Linked DNA regions of Homo sapiens: region 1 is linked to region 2. The links come from fine-mapping of genetic effects on gene expression. A gene starts in region 2. The other region holds a variant in brackets. All regions are shown on one strand. Distances are between the middles of the regions.

What was found. PIP is the estimated chance that this variant, and not a neighbour inherited with it, causes the effect.
Region 1: its variant is fine-mapped to the expression of ATG9B in whole blood (TOPMed, PIP above 0.99).

What each region holds. Positions count from the first base shown.
Region 1 is chr7:150,999,724-151,007,723 of GRCh38, reverse strand. It overlaps NOS3 (nitric oxide synthase 3), which reads right to left. Exons shown (of 27, transcript NM_000603.5): 10 at 7,125-7,226; 11 at 6,299-6,493; 12 at 6,107-6,180; 13 at 5,759-5,903; 14 at 5,420-5,524; 15 at 1,230-1,297; 16 at 719-835; 17 at 448-622. Among named protein-coding and RNA genes, the nearest start is that of NOS3, 13 kb to the right of the region's middle. RefSeq lists enhancers at 1-487, 488-1,068, 5,505-6,005, 5,283-6,482 and a silencer at 7,336-7,498. The variant G/C (reference allele first, on the strand shown) is at 4,329.
Region 2 is chr7:151,016,893-151,030,183 of GRCh38, reverse strand. ATG9B (autophagy related 9B) reads left to right here and starts at 5,690. Exons shown (of 14, transcript NM_001317056.2): 1 at 5,690-6,310; 2 at 6,454-6,497; 3 at 6,675-6,739; 4 at 6,978-7,139; 5 at 8,855-8,996; 6 at 10,810-11,564; 7 at 11,737-11,890; 8 at 12,134-12,313; 9 at 12,912-13,148. The coding sequence starts at 5,761. It overlaps LOC124901777 (a long non-coding RNA gene), which reads left to right and starts at 1,926. Exons shown (of 3, transcript XR_007060593.1): 1 at 1,926-2,221; 2 at 3,172-3,377; 3 at 5,151-5,189. ABCB8 (ATP binding cassette subfamily B member 8) reads right to left here and starts at 1,734. Exons shown (of 16, transcript NM_007188.5): 1 at 1,574-1,734. The coding sequence starts at 1,668. RefSeq lists enhancers at 547-1,150, 1,402-1,711, 2,361-2,965, 2,966-3,569, 4,175-4,779 and 1 more and a silencer at 11,074-11,143.

The DNA of each region.
Region 1 (8,000 bases), 20 kb after region 2:
GCCCCAGGCTGTCTGGCCTCTGGCTTCCTGTGGCTTCTGTGCTGGCCTCAGCTTCAGCCCTTGCCTCTGTCTGACCTTCTCTCTGTCCCTTCCTTCTCCCTCCATCCTGCCCATCCTGGGTGGGGTCCCCTGCCCTGCCCTGCACCCCCTCCCTTTGTGCGCCCACTTGTGAGGCCCAGCCTGTGCCTGGCTGAAGCTCCCTCCTGCCAGGGCCCTGCCTGCTCTCTTTCGGCTGCACTTCTGCCTGGGCTAGGCACCCCTGTGGTCGGCAGGGCCATGTCATCCTCTGCCCCTGACCCAGAAGAGCTGGCTATGCCATGGAGAGATGAGGGTGGATTTTGGAAGGAACAGGAAGGGACCAAAGAACCAAACAGAATCAGGGCAGAGTGAGGCAGGAGGAGGCATCCCAGGGGGCAGGAGTCAGAGCAGGGGCTGGGCTGGGCTCACCTGGAAGGCAGCCTGGGCCCAGCCTCGGAAGGCCTCCTCCTGGCCGCACAGCTCGTCGCCCTGGCCCAGCTGCAGCAGCCGCTCCCCGCCCAGTTCCTCCAGCCGTGTGTCCACGGCACGAGCAAAGGCGCAGAAGTGGGGGTATGCCCGGGAGCCGAGCCCGAACACACAGAACCTGGGGTGCAGGGGTCGTCAGTGGAGCTCCCTTTGCAGGCCACGTTTGCCCAGGCAGCTTGCCCACCCGTTGCACCCCTCTTGGTGAGGCCCTGACCTGAGGGTGCCCAGGGCCCCTGCACTGTCTGTGTTACTGGACTCCTTCCTCTTCCGCCGCCAAGAGGACACCAGTGGGTCTGAGCAGGAGATGCTGTTGAAGCGGATCTTATAACTCCTGGCAAGAGAGGACAAAGACAAGGTTGTCACAGGGCCCTGGGGATACAGGCTAGGCCCAGCCCCAGCCCCAGGGACGGCTTCAGGGTCTCTGCCTCTGGGACAGGAAAGGCCCTGCCCTTGGGAGGGGCTGAGGGCCAGCATCCCTGGGGTTCCGAGCCTGGGGCCCTGACACACCACACCCCCATCTCTGAAGACCTCAGGACTGTCCCGGCTCTCAGAAGCAGGCAGGTCTGGACTGCCATTGCAGCCTGGAATGGAGGGCATCCTGGAGCCCTGGCTTTTGGTGGGAAAACGACTTGAGGCACAGAGGGAGAGCTTTTCAGACCCCCTTTCTGTTTGTGTCTCCAAATGCATCAGCTCCCCCAGCTCCCCCAAACTCTCACCCAACTCACTTGTGCTGTTCCGGCCGAGGGGAGCTGTTGTAGGGGCCGGACATCTCCATCAGGGCAGCTGCAAAGCTCTGGCGAGGGGAGTGTTTGCATCAGGGTTAGTTTTGTTTCATTTCAAACTACATAGAAGTTTAAAACTGTACCAGCTGATCCTCATTATTATTGATTTGTAACTTAATTTTTATTTGTTTTGAAAATTTCAAAAGCGATCTGATGTTTTTGAAAAATGACATTACAGAAATGTGTAAAGTGATAAGACAAAGACCACCCCATCTTCCCTCCGGGCATATGCGCCATTGACAGGTGTTAACCTTCCAGCCCTTTTTCCTTGAACTTACGTGCATGTGCATATTTATAGTTTTTTTTTAAGTAAAAGTGGTACCATACTGTACTTCCTTGGTTTTAATCAATAATTTATTGCAGACATCCCTCCAGGTCAATACAACAATATTGACGTAAGTAGTAGTATTGTTTTTAGATATGGGTCTTGCTCTGTCGCCCAGGTTGGGGTGCAGTGGCTCCATCATCATTCACTGTAACCTCAGACTCCTGGGCTTAAGGGATTTTTCTGCCTTCCTAGTAGCTAGATCTATAGGTGCGTGCCACCACTCTTGGTTAATTTTTAAATTTTCTGAAGAGATGGAGTCTCGCTGTGTTGTTCAGTCTGGCCTTGAACTCCTGGGCTCAAGCGATCCTCCGGCCTGGACTTTCCAAAACATGACCTCAGTCTTTTTAGTGGCTACATTGTACTTCACTGAGACTGAAGGGCAGCTCGGTGGTCTGGGAACAGGTGCTCTCTCAAACGCCCTTGTACGTGTGCCTTGCTCCCACTTTTAAATGCTTCAGCTGGGTAATCCTTAGAAGTGGAGTTGCTGAATCCCCACTTGTTGGGGCAGGCAGATCGTCCTCGCAGCTGCAGGGGAGGGCACAGCTCTTTCCTCACTCCTGGCTAACAACGGCTAGAGCAAAATCTTTCCTGTTTTAGTGGATTTCATGGGTGGACAAACTCTCAGTTCCTTCAGCAGTGTCCTGGTCACTAGCAGACATTGTGCAGGTTGCCCTCCTCAGAAGACCATGGCCTTGTTTGTGCTGCCATGAAGAAGTGGCATCAAGCGGACCTCCCAGGGGGAAGGAAGCTGGAAGGAACTGCATCTGGTGCTCAACTGCAGATGCCTCTGGGTGCTGGTTCCCAAGTGCGCCAGAGTTAGCAAGAACGATTTGAATTTCATTTTTGAATGTTTTGTCAACGTGCAACACAAGTCCAGAGGTGCACACATGTTGTAAATGTACAACTCTGTAAGTTTTCACAAACTGAACACACCTGTGCAACCAGCATCCCATCGAGAAACATTACCCGTGGCTGGGCGTGGTGGCTCACGCCTGTAATCCCAGCACTTTGGGAGGCTGAGGTCAGGGATTCAAGACCAGCCTGGCCAACATGGTGAAACCGCGTCTCTACTAAAAACACAAAAATTAGCTGGCCATGGTGGCGGGCACCTGTAATCCCAGCTACTCGGGAGGCTGAGGCAGGAGAATCGCTTGAACCGGGGAGGCGGAGGTTGCAGTGAGCCGAGATCACGCCATTGCACTCCAGCCTGGGCAACAGAGTGAGACTCCAGCTCAAAAACAAAAACAAACAAACAAACAAACAAACAAACATTACCCGCATCCTAGAAGCCAACTTCGTGCCTTCTTCCTGTCACTGCCACCCCCATCCCAGTGACTAACTCCTCTCCTAATTTCTAACTCCGTGGATTAGTTCTGCCTGTTTCTGAACTTTATATAAAGTGAACCCTGTAGTACAGTATGTATTCTTTGGTCTGGCTTTTTCTTCTCTTCACATTTTTTGAGATTCACCTGCACTGTTGTGTGTGGTTGTGTTTCGTTCACACTTAGTGCGATATGGCACTTGAATATACCACAATTTATCAGTATTTGTCGATGGTCATTTGAATTGTTTCCAGTGTGGGGTATTACAAACAAATTTGCTATAAATATTCCTTATTTTTAGTGAATATACCCCATTTTCTGTGAGCTGTATTCCTAGATTTGTTAAAAATTTGGGATAAAATTAACATACATTGAACTGCACAGATGTTAAAGGGCAGTTTAATTTGCTTTGCTGTTTGACAGTTTTATTTTATTTATTTGTATTTTATTTTAAGTAGAATTCTTGCTCTGTCACCCAGGCTGGAGTGCAGTGGCGTGATCTCGGCTCACTGCAACCTCCACCTCCCAGGTTCAAGCAATTCTCCCGCCTAGCCTCCTGAGTAGCTAGGACTATAGGCGTGCGCCACCATGCCCAGCTAATTTTTGTATTTTTAGTAGAGACAGGGTTTTGCCATGTTGGCCAGGCTGGTCTTGAGCTTCTGACCTCAAGTGATCCACCCACCTGGGCCTCCCAAAGTGCTGGGATCACAGGCGTGAGCCACCGCGCCTGGCCTGGCAGTTTTATTTTTTAAAAAAGTGAAAGATTAAACATGCATCTACCCTATGACCTACCAATTCTACTCCTAGGTATTTACCCAAGAGAAATAAAAACATAAGCCCACAAAAGCCGGGTACAAGAATGTTCATAACAGGTTTATTCATAATAGCCCCGACCTGGAAACAGCCCAAGTGTCACCAACAAGAGAATGGGTAAACAAACTGGGGATATTCACACAATGAACGGCACTCAGCAGCAGAATGAGTGAAATACTGAGTCACGCAGCAACACGAGTGCGCCTCAAAAACAGCCTCAGCAGGAGACGCCGCAACACTGCGTGCTTCCATCTAGGTGCCGTTCTAGAGCAGGCGAAACTATTCTGTGGTGACAGACACTTCTGGCAGGGAGACAGACTGGGAAGGGATTCACGTGAGGAACTGATGAGGGAACTTTCCAGGGTGGTGAAAATGTGCTATGCCTTGTGAAGGCTGTAGGTTATATGGGTGTCTATACACCTTTATGCTAAAAAAAAGTCAATTGCTGGTGCTATTTTTCTTGAAAAGGTAGGTCAGAATGAGGGCTGAAACGGACACTAAGGCAGCAAAAAGGGTTTCACGAGATTCCAACTTGCTTAAGATACTGAGGGCCAGGTGCAGTGGCTCACGTCTATAATC[G/C]CAGCACTTTGGGAGGCCGAGGCAGGTGGATTGCTTGAACCCAGGAGTTAGAGACCAGCCTGGGCAACATGGCGAAACCCCATCTCTATAAAAAATACAAAAATTAGCTAGGCATCATGGCATGCGCCTGTAGTCCCAACTACTTGGGAGGTTGAAGTGGGAGGATTGCTTGAGTCTAGGAGGTTGAGGCTGCAGTGAGCCGTGATTGTACTACTGCACTCCAGCCTGGGCCACAAAGTGAGACCCTGTCTCAAAGGAAAAAAGAAAAAAGAGTACTGAGGAAGTACTTAGTGCTAATAAGGCCTTTAACACCTAGAAGCTGGAGCAGGTAAGACTCAGAAATGAGCCTAGCCTGGGGCACCTCAGAGATACCTAAGCTTGCAAGAGAAGGAATTCAATGATGGTACTCTAGCTTTGTGTTTCTTTTTAAAAAGTGAAGTTATTTAATCTATGTTGGCATCTAAACAGCGCTCAATTTCTTCTTTTGAAAAAGGAGCCTGCGGCAGGAGGATCTCTTGAGGCTAGGAGTTCAAGGCCAGCCTGGGCAACGTAAATAGGTTCTCAAAATAAATAAAACAAATAAAATAAAATGCTGGAATAGTGTTGCACATGTTGTAAATGTACAGCTCTGTGGATTTTTACAAACTGAACACACCTGTGTAACCAGTATCCCATTAAGAAACATTACCCGCATCCTAGAAGCCGCCCTCAGTGACGTATCCCTGTTTTTCTTGTCAGTGCCCGAGCACAGTCTAACCTCTTGGTCAGCCAGGATGTGCCTTCCTTGTATTAAAAACTTGCACTGATAATGGAAATGACTTGGGGACGCGCAGTTAAGCAAATGTGCTTGCAGGGAGGCAGCCACATGGGTGGGCTGGGAGCGTAGCTTGTGTGGGGTTTCAGGCTCCAGGGGTCTCTTAGCATCTCCCTTTCCATCCTGGCGTGTGTGTGTGTGTGTGTGTGTGTGTGTGTGTGTGTGTGTGTGTGTGTGTGTGTGTGTGTGTGTGTGTGTTGGGCAGAGGTTCCTGCCCAGTCACTCCAATTCTGAGTCTCTCCTCATTCCCAGCAGCCCCTTTCCTGGAAGTTCTCACCTCTCCATTCTCCGGGGGATCCCCATTCCCAAATGTGCTGGTTACCACCAGCACCAGCGTCTCGTGTTCGAGGGACACCACGTCATACTCATCCATACACAGGACCTGTGGGTGGGAAGACAGATGTCCTGGGTGCTGTGGCCCCCGGAGGCCCTGCCCTCCTCACTCTGGCCTCCCTGGCAGTGCAAGATTCAGGCCCCAACTTGATCTCTGAACACCTGTGGTTCCGGGTTCCTCATGAGTCCTGACTTGTAACACTTCCTGTCCTCCAGGGCACCCCTGAAGATGCTGATAGAGCCCCCTCTTTCTAGCTCCCTGCTCCCCTGGGCTCAGCCCTACCCGGGGATCAAAAGCCTTCCGGAAGAGTCTCCCCAGCTGCTGTGCGTAGCTCTGGGCCCGGCCGGTCTCGGAGCCATACAGGATTGTCGCCTTCACTCGCTTCGCCATCACCGTGCCCATGAGCGAGGCGGAGATCTTCACGGCGCTGCGGGAGAGGAAGGTGTGAGGGTGTCCTGGGTGCACAGAGGCAGGGCCTCCCCAGGCAAGGGTCCAACCCCCTCACAACAGGGTTTTGGGATACTGAGTGGTAGGCCCAGAACACTGCTGGGGCAGGGTCCCCCAGGGTGTGTGGGGGAGAGTGGGGCCCCCAGGGTGTGTGTGGGAGAGCGGGGCTCCCAGGGGACCCACTTGGCCACTTCTTTAAAGGTCTTCTTCCTGGTGATGCCGGTGCCCTTGGCGGCACTCCCCTTCCAGGGGTCTGGCTGCAGAGAGATGATGGGGTTGGGAGGGGAGGTAAAGAAAAGGAAAGGTTAGAGGTCCCCAGGGGCTGCTTAGAATTAGAGCTGGGCCCAGGCTGGCAGAGCCAGTTAGGGTGGGCACCTGGTAGCGGAAGGCCGGGGACAGGAAATAGTTGACCATCTCCTGATGGAAAACAGGAGTGAGGCTGCCCGAGATGGGGGGCACGATCCAGGCCCAGTCTGCAGGGCAGCCCCCCCTGGCCTTCTGCTCATTCTCCAGGTGCTTCATGAAAGAGGCCGTGGCGGCGTGGTGGTCCACGATGGTGACTTTGGCTAGCTGGAAGGGAGAGAGAGGGGGAGAGGCTCAAACCAGACCCACAGACCTCGCCCATTCTTCCTCCACCACTCCGGTCACCCCAAACCACATGTGCCCTCGATTACCCCATATCTAACACACCCTGTGTCCCCTCAAACCACAATGTCACCCTCACCCCAAACCACATCATGCATGGTCATGCTGCAGGTTCAACATGCAACAAGCAGCTCTAATCTCCAGCATCTGCATGCCTGGTCCCCAAACCAAATAGCCCACAGAAATTCTCAGCAGGCCCCGGCTTCCTCAAACTACGACTCCTGGTGTGCCCTTGATCCTGGTATTTGTTTCCAGGATCCAGCGGGTCCCACAAACTGCAATACCCAATATGCCCTGAGAATCAGCATGACTGGGCATGCAGTAAACAGCAAGGTCCCTGGCACACAGTAAGCCACCAGATGACAGCGCCTGGAATAGTACCTGCCCTGTCCCCGAACCGCAGGCCAGTGTGCGCCATGGCACTGGGACTACGGAACTTCTTCTGCCTGTCCAAATCCTGCCCTAGTTTCTAAATGGCTGCCTCTCCTCCATCCCCCGCCCCTGCTGCCCCCGTATGCAAACCCTTTGCCTTCCTGGCCAGTCTGGGCCTCTGCACCTGGTAACTGTGCAGCACGGCCACGTTGATTTCCACTGCTGCCTTGTCTTTCCACAGGGACGAGGTGGTCCGGGTATCCAGGTCCATGCAGACAGCCACATCCTGGGGCAGAAGGGTGTGTGGCATCGGTAGGGACAGAGGTGATCACGGGGGTGGGGTGGGGAGACTATCTCTGTTTCCCGTACATGGCTGGAAGGAGTGAGGTGAGTGGTGTCCATTGGGAGGCCTGGCTGCCTAGGGGGCTGGTTCAGGTTTTTGCCTGCGAAGGCACCTCAGAGCAGAGAGGGACTTTGGGCCAGTCGCTCCTCAGCTCCAGGCTTTAATTTCTCATCTCTAAAATGGGTCTTAACCTTTGCCGAGTCAAGGTCCCCTTTGAGAATCTGATGAAAGCTCTAGAGCTATGGGTCCTATGCCTGAAAGAACAACTACATGTTCACACCCATCCCCATGCCCCCCTCACCCACCCACTCACACCCACACCCACCCACAAACCCACACACTCACACCCACCCACCCCCACAAACCCACAATTTCACACTCACCGCCTACACACATCCACACTCACACCCACATACCTACACTCTCACACTCGCCCCTACACACCCCACAAACCCACACTCGCCTACCCCTACAAGCCCACACACACCCCCTACACACCCCACAAACCCACACTCACCTACCCCTACAAACTCACACACACTCACCCCTACACACCCCACAAACCCACACTCGCCTACCCCTACAAACTCACACACACTCACCCCTACACACCCCACAAACCCACACTCGCCTACCCCTACAAACCCACACACACTCACCCCTACACACCCCACAAACCCACAGTCACCTACCCCCACAAACCCACAGTCTCACAGT
Region 2 (13,291 bases):
TTGAAAAATACTGACTAATGAACACATATATACTTGAATATTATTTTATGTCTTTCCTTGGGTTTCTCTCTGGTTTAAATAACATCAACACCCTTACTCTTTCCTAAGAACTGTTTTTAAACCTTTCAATAATTTAGCATGGTCTTTTTCCAGCTTCTTGCATTGTCTCCAAACTAAGACTCTAAGAAAGTCTTGGTCGTTGCCAAGAGCATGTGGATTACTTCCCAGTACCAAGACTTCCAGCTCCAGCTCGATCCAGCTCTTGCCCTCCATCAGTCAGATGGGCTTTCCAAATGACACAACTCCACATCCACCTGCCCTTGGGAATCTTCTATCTGTTTGGCCCCCAAGTAATTCACTCTAGGATTAGAAAGGATGGCCAGGTGAGGTGGCTCATGCCTGTAATCCCAGCACTTTGGGAGGCCGAGGCAGGCAGATCACCCGAGGTCAGGAGTTGAAGACCAGTCTGCCCACCAATATGATGAAACCCCGTCTCTACTAAAAATACAAACATTAGCCGGGTGTGGTGCACATCTGTAATCCCAGCTACTTGGGTGGCTGAAGCATGAGAATTGCTTGAACCCAGGAGGCAGAGGTTGCAGTCAGTCGAGACCATGCCACTGCACTCCAGCCTGGGTGACAGAGCGAGACTCTGTCTCAAAAAAAAAAAAAAAAGAAAAGAAAAGAAAAGAAAAGAAAAGAAAAAAAAAGGAATCAGTCCCTTCTCATAAAGCATTTACATTCGAGTTGTAGTTTCAGGGTCCTTGTTTGTTTCCCATCTGTCTGTCTGTCTGTCTCTCTCTCTCGACCAACCTGTGTAGAGTGTTTTGCGAAAAACACACATGTACAAGTTACTAGATTGACTCTTTTTTTTTTTTTTCTGAGGCAGAGTCTCACTCTATCACCCGGGCTGGAGTGCAGTGGCCATGATCTCAGCTCACTGCAACCTCCGCCTCCCGGGTTGAAGCGATTCTCCTGCCCCAGCCTTCCAAGTAGTTGGAATTACAGGCGCGTGCCACCAATCACGGCAAATTTTTGTATTTTTTAGTAGAGACGAGGTTTTGCCATGTTGGCCAGGCTGGTCTCGAACTCCTGGCCTTCCAAAGTGCTGGGATTACAGGAGCGAGCCACCGCGCCCGGCCTATTAGATTGGCTCTTTATCCCTGCTGAACATCTCTAGTTCTTCTTCGACTCACTTTGAATCCTGGAAGCACCACTACATTAAATGTCTCTTCATACTAATAAGAATTTTCGTCCAAATCGCGCAATCACCTCCAGGGCCAGGAAAGGGGACCCCCGGTCGGGAGTGCGGACTGGGCGTGGTCACTGACCCCGAGCGTCCCCTCCTTCTGGCTGACACGCGGCTGCAGACGCAGGAGCCTCCTGCTGGCGACTGGAGTGTCACTATAAATAATTGAGGCCAACACCCGCGGAGTGACATTCCACCCCGGTAGGCCTGGCCTACAGCTCCCAGCAAGCCTCGCGCAAGCTCGTGGACTCCATCTCCCGGCGGGCCGGCACTGCCCTGCCGGGCGGTCAATGGCCCGCTCTGAGTAGGTTTTTCCGTTTTTACCTGACAGCTGAGAATGTCTGGAAGCGGAGGGGCGGTAGCAGCCTGCCTGGGAATGGGCCACCCCGAATCCCGACCCGAAATAAATGCACCAGCATGCTGACGCGGTAAAACAGGAGCCGCCGGCAATAGCAGTTTCACCCTCATCCCACTGAGGGCTCTATGTTGGCTCCCGCCCCCATCCCGACAACCCCCTCGCGCCTTGGCGGTGATTGGTGAAAAGACACATCAATCTCACTTCAAGCTGTGATTGGAGGATATGTTGTCAGCCCCCTCCTTTTGGAACTGTGATTGGAGGGAATCGCCTATCCGCCCGCCCCCTGCTCTGGGCGGAGCCGAGCAGGAAGTGGGCCTGGCTTTTGCCAGGTGCTCCTGTGGGCTCCGGGTGACGTCCAAAGGGTGTGGCCCGACTGGCCCTCCAAGCTATGGAGTATCCATAGTAACGCGTCAGCCGCCGACCTCGGGCCATTTTCCCAAGGCTCCAGGATCTCTAGATGTCCCGTCGTCTCAAGGGCGTGTAGAACGCGGGTTTTGGGGGAGGAATGAACAAAAATCGACTGGGAGTTTTTTCAAAACACGTACATATGCCCTGCCACCCACCCCGCTCTCCTAGGTGCGTCAGAACTGCTGGGACATCTGTCACGTGAAGGGGTGGGTTGCCCCTCCACACCTGTGGGCGTTTCTCATTAGGTGGAAGGAGAGACTTGGAAAAGAAAGAGACAGAGAGACAAAGTATAGAGAAAGAAAAATGGGCCCAGGAGACCGGAGTTCAGTTTACGGAAGATCCACGCCGGCACCAGCCTCTGAGTTCCCTTAGTATTTATTGATCATTATCGGGTATGGCAGGATAATAGGATAATAGTGGAGAGAAGGTCAGAAGGTAAACACGTGAACAAACGTCTCTGCATCGTAAACAAGGTAAAAAAAAAAATGCTGTGCTTTTGATGTGCATACACATAAACATCACAATGCCTTAAGAAGCAGTATTGCTGCCAGCCTGTCCCACCTCCAGCCCTAAGGCGGTTTTCCCCTATCTCAGTAGAGATAGGCTTTACACCGAGACATTTCCATTGCCCAGGGACGAGCAGGAGACAGAAGCCTTTCTTTTATCTCAACTGCAAAGAGGCATTCCTTCCTCTTTTACTAATCCTCCTCAGTACAGACCCTTTATGGGTGTCGGGCTGGGGGACGGTCAGGTCTTTCCCTTCCCACGAGGCCATATTTCATCACATGGGGAGAAACCTTGGACAATACCTAGCTTTCCTAGGCAGAGGTCCCTGCAGCCTTCCTCAGTGTTTTGTGTCTGGGTACTTGAGATTAGGGAGTGGTTTGAGATTAGGGAGTGGTGATGACTCTTAAGAAGCATGCTGCCTTCAAGAATTTGTTTAACAAAGCACACCGTGCACAGCCCTTAATCCATTTAACCCTGAGTTGACACAGCACATGTTTCAGGGAGCACAGGGTTGGGGGTAGGGTTACAGATCAACAGCATCTCAAGGCAGAAGAATTTTTCTTAGTACAGAACAAAATGGAGTCTCCTATGTCTACTTCTTTCTACACAGACACAGGAACAATCTGATCTCTCTTTCTTTTCCCCACAGTCACGTGTACTTGGGGAAGAACTCCCCCGGTGATTCTGACACTCTTGCCCTACGCCTCAGCCATTGAGAACTATTGGTATGGAGGGCCTGTAATTTATCAAGGCGCGGCCTCAGATCTGTCTGCCTCGCAGATACCTTCCTCACCCGGGTCAGAATGACTTGCCTCAGGCTCCTGCCAAAGAGTTTGCACCACTCGTTTCTTCCCTGTAATTACTTGTTTGCGTATTTGTCTCCCCACTGGGCTGCAGCTTCTTGGGTAGTGGCTCTGTTTTATTCATCTGTCCTCTTCCCTTCCAAATGCTTGGCAAGGAAAAGTGCCCTTTAAAATAAATCGACTTGAATTGGGAGTGGTGGTAGGGAGGCTGTCAATGAGAATGAATTCAGGGTGAAACTAGGTAGGACAATGTCCCAGGATTAGTTTGGGGTTGAGCTGGGGAGCTCTTGGTGTATGGGGGGGTCCTATTGTGACTATGGTGGAATAGCCACGATACTGAGTGACATTGGGCGAGTGAGGTGGGGGAGAGACTAGACAACACCCCACATAACCCATCTTGACAGATGTCTCAGAAAGATTATGGGAATTTCCTGGCCCCTCTGCAATGTGGGATTCCATTTTGCTACCTCTAGAAGGACAGGGTCTTGTTTTCATAGCTCTGCCTCCTACTCTGAGATAAAGGCATGCAAGACCTGAGCTACTACTACAATACCCCACACAGAAGGAGAAAATCAGGCACATCTGGATTCAAGTTTTGTGGGTGATTCCATGATTGCCTCCAGTGAACAATCTGGGAAGCACAGTGTCCATATCGCCATTTCAGGGGTACTGGCCCCAACATCAGCCCTTAGGCCTAAGCCCTAGAGACCTTGACACCTGGTGGCTGAGTCAGTATCTCAGTAATGGGCTTTAGAAGGAAACCTGGTGATTCAGGGCCTCAAGAATGGCGTTGGGCAAGCCACCAGACCAGCTGCCTGGGTCTCCTCCTCCTTGTTGAGGTGACAACAAGGAACTCAGTTCAGCTCCTCCCTGGGTATCCAAATTATCCTTCCAAGTCCCAGACTCACAGCTGTCCTCCCTTCTGATTCAGCCCTGATGCTTTTCAGGGGGTCCCAGAAGTGGGATCCGGACTTGAGAGAATGTCACAGTTGAAAATGATAAGGATGCAAACGGAATGGAACTTTCAGAGAACCCCAATTTTCTACTCTAAGTTCTCCAAACCAACTCTCAAATCCAAGATAGCTGCCTTTCCTTTCTTCACCTCCTCTTCTTAGTTTTCCCCAACTTGGCTGCAAAGTCAGCCTCCCCTCTTCTCTTCCTTAGCACCTCAGACCAATAAAACATGCAACCTTTTCTTATTCTTTTTAAAAAATTTATTTTTGACCAGGCGCAGTGGCTCACGCCTGTAATGCCAGCACTTTGGGAGGCCAAGGCGGGTGGATCACGAGGTCAGGAGTTCAAGACCAGCCTGGCCAACATGGTGAAACCCCATCTCTACTAAAAATACAAAAAATTAGCTGGGTGTGGTGGCACACACCTGTAGTCTCAGCTACTCAGGAGGCTGAAGCAGAAGAATCACTTGAACTTGGGAGGCGGAGGTTGCAGTGAGCCGAGATTGTGCCACTATACTCCAGTCTGGGTGACAGAGTGAGACTGCCTCAAAAAGAAAAAAAATTATTTTGTTTGTTTTTTAGATTTTGTAGAGATGGTGTTTCCCTAAGTTGCTCAGGCTGGTCTCGAACTCCTGGCCTCAAGTGATCCTCTCGCCCGGGCCTCCCAAAGTCCTGGGATTACGGGTGTAAGCCAACATGCCTGGCCCCTTTACTTCTTCTTTTCTGTTTTGGTCACAAAACATTTCTCTGTTGATCACTGTAGTGTGTGTGTGGAGGGAAGTGGGGGAGGTACACTCTTAAGAAATGAAATAGTTAACATCTTGGTCCTAAGATTTGTTGTAGAGATGGAGTCTTCTCATTCTGTTCCCCAGGCTGGTCTTGAACTCCTGGCCTCAAGCAATCCTCTTTCCTCGGCTTCCCAAAGTGCTGAGATTGATTACAAGTGTGAGGTACTGCGCCCTGCTACAATCCTTTAATAGGATGTTTTTGGGGGGGGTGGCAGGGGGCAGGATCTAGCTCACTGTAACCTATACTGTTCCAGTGTAACCTGCACCAAGCCATCCTCCCACCTCAGTCTCTTGAGTAGCTAGGAACACAAGCACACATCACCACACCTGGCTCTAACACGATTTTGCTTTTTGCTTTTGTCATTTTGGCTGCTGTTCTTTTTATCTTTCATTCATTCAAGGTCTGAAGATGGAGATAATAGGAATCTTCTCATCTCAATGTGCTCTTTGGCCCCTCCTCTTAAACTGATGCCCCTCTCAGGCCCTGAGGGATTTGGCCTCAGGTTGCCCTGGAAGGGGTGTGAGTGATCAGACAGGTGACTGAGAGCTGGGACGCCTGAGGCCTGCCTAGGCTGAGTCACCTAGTAATGTTGTTGTCATTGTTCCTGTTGAAGTCCCAGCTCAGTGTCACAGACCTTTGTGGAAGCAACAACAGCTCCCATCCTTCCAACCTTTCTGGAGAAGCCGTGGCCTGATGGTGAGCCGAATGGGCTGGGGGGGGAGAAGAAGGCGGCTGGGGCGGTGGGGAGATCTGGGGCCCGGATCGGTGCCCCTCCTCCCCATGCCACTGCCACCTCCTCCTCCTCCTTCATGCCGGGGACCTGGGGGAGGGAGGATCTCCATCTTCTCTCTGTCCCCTGCCCCTCATACAAGAAGCTCCCCCTCCTCATTTTCCCCTCCCACCGCAGGGCCCCCTTGCTCAGTGCTACAGGGGACAGGGGCTTCTCAGTCTTGCCACAGTGCTCTCCCTATCCCAGCCACCCCCCCAACACAGGCTCAACCTGCAATGACACCTGCCTCTGCATCTCCCTCCTGGGGATCCCACTCCACCCCACCCCTGGCCCCGGCAACCCCCACTCCCTCACAGCAGTGCCCCCAGGACTCTCCTGGGCTGCGGGTAGGCCCTTTGATCCCTGAACAGGATTATGAGCGGCTGGAGGACTGTGACCCTGAGGGGTCCCAAGACTCACCCATCCACGGGGAGGAGCAGCAACCCCTGCTTCATGTCCCTGAAGGGCTCCGAGGTATGTGTGTGGGTGTGGGTGGGAGAGGGTTAGTGGTGCCTGGGAGCTCCAGTACTTATCCCAGGCTGGGCCTCTGGCAGCGGGTTGAGAACGTGGAGAATTGATCACATGCCAGGGGCTGACACTCTCCCCTCTGTGCCCAGGCTCCTGGCATCACATCCAGAACCTGGACAGTTTCTTCACCAAGATATCCTTTGCGCTAGGCCTGCAGAGGTGGCATGGGAAGGTCCTCTTGGAGCTGGCACTGTTCTTGGCAGGGAGACTCCGTGAGGGCGTCATGGGTGGGAGACTTGTTGGGGCTGAGGGGAGGTGTCCTCAGGAGAGGCCCCCCGTGCCTCAGGCTTGTTCCTTGACACGCAGCCACATCTACAGCTACCACCAGCGGAATGGCTTTGCCTGCATCTTGCTGGAGGATGTCTTCCAGCTGGGGTGAGACGCTTAGCCCGGGCCCGGAACTCGGTCCCCTGGGCCCATGGCTTCCTTCTGTCATTTTGCTTCCTTAATTGTGCCAGCTGCTTCCATCCCATGCTTTCCCGAGCAGCCCAAGGGCTCAGCAGGGGCAGGGTCAGGGAGGATAACCATGGGCTGCTCTGGGGGCTGGGGCAGGAGCCCACCTGGCTGTCCCTGATCACTGCAGCATCCCGGCACCCCCCCTTCCTCCCGGCAGACAATTTATTTTCATTGTCACCTTCACAACCTTCCTCCTTCGATGCGTGGATTACAATGTTCTCTTTGCCAACCAACCAAGTAACCATACCAGACCTGGGCCGTTCCACAGCAAAGTGACCCTGTCAGATGCCATCCTACCCTCAGCCCAGTGTGCTGAGAGGTTAGTGACAACCTGGTGGGGCCCTGGGGGTGAAGCATGGGCAGTGGGTAGAGGAGTAGACGGGAGCCCCACTTTGTCCCGTCATCTAGATCAGCAGTTCTCAAAGCTTTTGGTCTTAGGACCAAAAATACACTTAATATACTTTAAGTTGTACTTAAGTGTATTAAGTTGTACTTAAAGTGTATTAAGTATATCTTTTTTTTTTTTTAAGACAGAGTTTCACTCTTGTTGCTCAGGCTGGAGTGCAATGGTGAGGTCTTGGCTCACTGCAACCTCCACCTCCCAGGTTCAAGCAATTCTCCTGCCTCAGCCTCCCCAGTAGCTGGGATTATAGGCGTGCACCACCACGTGTATTTTTAGTAGAGACAGGGTTTCACCATGTTGGCCAGGCTGGTCTGGAACTCCTGGCCTCAGGTGATCCACCCACTTTGGCCTCCCAAAGTGCTGGGATTACAGGTGTGAGCCACTGTGCCCGGCCTTTTAAGTGTATCTTAATTACAGTGCATTAAGTGTATCTTAATACACTTAAAATTGGTTGAGAATCCTGAAAAGCTTTTGTTTATGGGAGTCGTATCTATCCACATTTTACCTTATAAAAAATTAAAATTAGGCCGGGCATAGTGGTTCACACCTGTAATCCCAGCACTTTGGGAGGCTGAGGCAGGAGGATTGCTTGAAGCCAGAAGTTTGAGATCAGCCTGAGCAACAAAGTGAGACCACATCTCTATAAAAAATAAAAATTAGCTGGGCTTGGTGGTGCGTACCTGCAGTCCTAGCTAAGCCTAGTCAGGAGGCTAAGACAGTGACTGTCTCTGATCACTGCAGCATCCCTACACCCTCCTCCCTCCCAGCAGACGATTCATTTTCATTGTTGCCTTCACAACCTTCCTCCCTGAAGCATGGATTGCAATGTTCTCTTTGCCAACCAACCAAATAACTGTTCCAGACCTGGGCCGTTATTTGGCAGGGAGATAGGAGCTATGTTTCTACTGCTGCACTACAGCCTGGGTAACAGAGAGAGACCTTGTTTCAATAAAAAGGAAAAAAAAAAAAGAAGGAAATTGTAGCTGAGAACAACTTTAAAATGTAAGAGTGCGGCTGGGCGTGGTGGCTCACACCTGTAATCTCAGCACTTTGGGAGGCCGAGGCGGGCGGATCACAAGGTCAGGAGATCAAAACCATTCTGGCCAACATGGTGAAACCCTGTCTCTACTAAAATATACAAAAATTAGCCAGGTGTGGTGGCGGGCGCCTGTAGTCCCAGCTACCCTGGAGGCTGAGACAGGAGAATCATTTGAACCCGGGAGGTGGAGGTTGCAGTGAGCCAAGATTGCGCCACTGCACTCCAGCCTGGGCGACACAGCAAGACTCCATCTCAAAAAAAAAAAAAAAGAGTGTACAAGCACACATTTCATCAGCTGTCAGTGTGATGTGACATGTTCACGTGTCTTGTAGCCTCTGGAAAACTCCACTGTACTCTCAGAGTACAAGAATGAAAACATCAGAAAGCATTAGTATTATTTGGAAAAAGTTTGACTTTGCACATTTGTGAAGGCCACTTCAGCACCCACCCCCTGCCCCGGGCTCTACCTTGAGAGCTGCTGGTCTAGCTAGATCCCCCTCCTCATGATGGTTTTTCCTCACTCCCGAAGTCTGGTCTGCCTCTTTCTCAGGCGCCCACCTTTCTCCCCCACTGCCCGCCCAACCCCATACAGGATCCGCTCCAGCCCGCTGCTGGTCCTCCTCCTGGTCCTGGCTGCCGGCTTCTGGCTGGTCCAACTGCTTCGCTCAGTCTGCAACCTCTTCAGCTACTGGGACATCCAGGTGTTTTACAGGGAGGCCCTGCACATCCCCCCGGTGAGCTGGGTGGCTGTGTCTGTGCAGAGGGTGCCGTGAGAGGGTGGGCAGAGGAGAGGGGAAGAAGTGGGACTGTACAGGTGGAAGGGCCAACTGGAAAGAGGGCAGAAAGAGCGAGGTCTTATTGACACCTGCCCTAGGCCCAGAATAATGTCAGGAGGGGGCTACCACCACCTAGAGAGCATGGCCCTTACCCTAAGGGAGTTTAGTTTATTTAGATGGCTCATATAAGATGACATATAGTTACATGTTTGTGCTAAAAACATTGATTAGAGAAAAGAGAAAGGGCAGTTATCTGGCTTTTCAGAGCTGGAGGAATTTGGGTTGGGCTTCGGAAGGGCAGGACAGGAGGGGAGGGGAGCACATTCTAAGCCCCAGTGCAGGAAGGTGGGGAAAAGCCATGAGCTTTTGGAAGCTGCAGTGAGGAGATGGACCCATCAGCCTAAAACAGAGCCTTCAAAGCCATCCCCCGCATTGCAGGAAGCCACTGCATTGGCCTGTCACTGTCCACTGCTTATGCTCTGCCCTTTGTTTCCTCACCATCTTGAGTCTGCTCCTCCCTCCTCTGTATCTAAGTTCTTTCTTTGAGGCACAGCTTGAAAGTAGCCTTCTGCAGCTTGCTTCCCTTGCTCCCCTGGGAGGTCCGGAGCCCTCTGCACAGCCTTTATGTGCAGCAAGGGGAGAGGTCTTAGAAGGCCCCTGAGCAGAGGAGAGGGAGGAGGCCGGGGAAGCAGAGGTGGTGAGAGCGGAAGCTGGACCTCGGATTGGCTCTGGCGGGAGACTGCTCACCCGTCTCGTTCTCCTCCTCCCTTCTTTCCCCTCCTCCCCTGTTCCTTCCAGGGGAAGGGAAGGGAAGACACTGGGATGTACTGGAGAGGCCAGCCTGGGGGACTTGACTAACCTGGACTGGGAAAGCTGAGTGAAACTGGGCTGAAGTGAGGTTTGCAGCCTTCAAATGAGATCTGACAGTGCCCCACTGCCAGATGTGGACATAGCCCAGGTCCTGGGAAGGCTTCTGGTGACAGAGCCGAAGATGGCCTGGAGTCGGGTGGGGCTGGGAGTGTAAAGCATGCCCAGGCAGAAGGTGGGGAGGATTCTGTTCCAGAGTTGGTGGGTGCACTAGAAATGGGAAGGAGAGATTCTCCCACGAACTGCCAGACATTCTGGTTTTTTGTTTTTTTGTTTGTTTTGTTTCTTTTGAGACAGGGTCTGGGTCTTTCACCCAGGCTGGAGTGCAGTGCTGTGATATTGGCTCACTGCAGCCTCTGCTCCCCAGTAGCTGCAACCACAGGTGCACACCACCACGCCCTGCTATTTTTTGTATTTTTAGTAGAGACAGTGTCTCACCATGTTGCCCAGGCTGGTCTCGAGCTCCTAAGCTCAGACGATCTGCCTGCCTCAGCCTCCCAAAGTGCTGGGATTACAGGTGTGAGCCACCGCCCCTGGCCAGCCAGTCTGTTTTGTGTGTACAACTGAGGGGGCCTCAGGCCCTTAAGGAGCTGAGAAGCCAGGTCCAGCACCTGGAGGCGTCCCCAGGAAGTGCATGACTACTGGCCACATGAATGGCAGGGATGATGAACAGGGCAGTTTAGAAGAGGATGAAGGAAGTAGGGCGCGCCCTTGTTAGTGACAGGGTTAAGGGAGGGCAGAAAGAGAAAGGTGGGAGAGGGGGACGATGTAGCTTGGTCATGGCGAGTTTGTGATCGCAAACTCAGTTTGCGGGTTTTCAGGCCGCACACTTAGGGGTGTGGAGCTTGAGCATCACTGTGGAGAGGAATGGGGGGTCGCTGGCTCTCATCAGTGCCCCTTTCAGGAGGAGCTGAGCTCGGTTCCCTGGGCAGAGGTGCAGTCCCGCCTCTTGGCACTGCAGCGGAGCGGGGGCCTGTGCGTGCAGCCGCGGCCCCTGACGGAGCTGGACATCCACCACCGCATCCTGCGCTACACCAACTACCAGGTGGCGCTGGCCAACAAAGGCCTGCTGCCGGCCCGCTGCCCGCTGCCCTGGGGAGGCAGTGCGGCTTTCCTCAGCCGCGGCCTGGCGCTCAATGTCGACCTGCTGCTCTTCCGCGGTCCCTTCTCGCTCTTCCGCGGGGGCTGGGAGCTGCCGCACGCCTACAAGCGCAGCGACCAGCGGGGCGCCCTAGCAGCGCGCTGGGGGCGCACAGTGCTGCTGCTGGCCGCCCTGAACCTGGCGCTGAGCCCGCTGGTGCTGGCCTGGCAGGTTCTGCACGTCTTCTATAGCCACGTGGAGCTGCTGCGGCGCGAGCCTGGCGCGCTGGGGGCGCGCGGCTGGTCCCGCCTGGCGCGCTTGCAGCTGCGCCACTTCAACGAGCTGCCGCACGAGCTGCGCGCGCGCCTGGCCCGCGCCTACCGCCCCGCCGCCGCCTTCCTGCGCACCGCTGCGCCCCCCGCGCCCCTGCGCACGCTGCTGGCCCGCCAGCTCGTTTTCTTCGCGGGTGCACTCTTCGCCGCGCTGCTTGTGCTCACCGTCTACGACGAGGACGTGCTAGCCGTGGAGCACGTGCTCACCGCCATGACCGCGCTCGGGGTCACCGCCACCGTCGCCAGGTGCGACGGCAGATGCCCGGGGTGGTGGTGTGTGTTGGTTTCTCTGATCTGGGGCCATGTGAGGTTCCCCCCGAATCCTTACCTCTCCCACCACTGGGGCCCTCTAGCCCTACATCCCACCGCGCGTCCTCCTAATCGCAGGCCCCTTCCCCCCACGGATCCCGCCTTTCAGGTCTTTCATTCCGGAAGAGCAGTGCCAGGGTCGTGCGCCGCAGCTCCTGCTGCAGACAGCCCTGGCCCACATGCACTACCTCCCGGAGGAGCCCGGCCCCGGCGGCAGGGACCGCGCCTACCGGCAGATGGCGCAGCTGCTGCAGTACCGAGCGGTGAGGGTGGGCGCGACGGCGGGCTGAGGAGGAAGTTGTGGGGTCTGTCTGCGCGGAGGGTCTGTCTGCGCGGAGGGTCTGTCTGGGAGAGGGCATGAGACAAACGGACTATACCAGGAGTCTAGGGAGTGACTGGGTGGGGAGGCTTCTTGCCCTGGCGAGGGTCGCTGGGGACTGCTTGGTCCTGATAACGCGCGTGGGCCCCTCAGCGACCCCTGCTCAGCCTCACCGCTGCTTCCCCAGGTCTCCCTCCTGGAGGAGCTCCTGTCCCCGCTCCTCACCCCGCTGTTTCTGCTTTTCTGGTTCCGCCCTCGTGCCCTGGAGATTATCGACTTTTTTCATCACTTCACTGTGGATGTGGCTGGGGTTGGGGACATCTGTTCCTTTGCCCTTATGGATGTGAAGCGCCACGGACACCCTCAGGTCAGAGCCGTTCCCTGGCCCTGGGGGTTTGGGCTGGGTGGGAGTTCGCTTGCCTCTCGGGAGCAGACCTGAGTTCCAGCCCTGGCTCCATTGCTTGCTACCTGTGCCGTTGAGCGGGTCACTTCCCTTCCTGTGCTCTCGTGCCCTCGTCTGTCAGATGGCAACAATGGCAATGTGCTCTCCAGAGCACAGCCAAGGCCAGGCTTGTGAACACACAGATTATGTCTGTATAGCCTATGATGGAGTTGCTGGCACATAGTAACGTCAGTAAATGGGAGCAAAGACCACCTGGGGGTGAGGAATGGGCTTGGCCGGTGGGTGGGGCTGAGTAAGGACTGGTGCCTGGACCAAGGCTGTCAGGATCACCCTGGGCAAAGCACTGAGGCTCAGCCCTATCCCCGAGCTGGCAATCAGTCCAGGGGTGACGAATAGATGACAGGCCCAGGTTCTGCACTGCTGCTGTATTTTTGGGTGATGGTGAACAAGTCCCCATTGTGGTCTGTTTCCTTCACGTGGAAGATGGGGCAGTGTTTCCTGTCCCACCTGTTCCCATAAGGCTCAGTGTTCTTAGCACCTGAAAGACTGTCCTTGCTCACAGTGGCTCTCGGCGGGACAGACTGAGGCCTCGCTGTCTCAGCGTGCGGAGGACGGCAAGACTGAGCTTTCTTTGATGCGGTTCTCCCTGGCGCATCCACTCTGGCGCCCCCCAGGGCACAGCTCTAAGTTTCTTGGGCACCTCTGGGGCCGAGTACAACAAGATGCAGCTGCCTGGGGTGCCACCTCGGCTCGCGGCCCCTCCACCCCGGGGGTGCTCAGCAACTGCACCTCGCCCCTGGTGAGTCCCAAGCCTGGCCTCCCCTTCTGCCTTCACCCCCACAACTCCTCTCCAAACCCTTCCCCTCTAGGCTCACCTTAGGTAGTAACCTGCCTCACCAGCCCCCGCCCCCAGCCTGCTCTCCTGCCTTCTTTAGGCCTCTG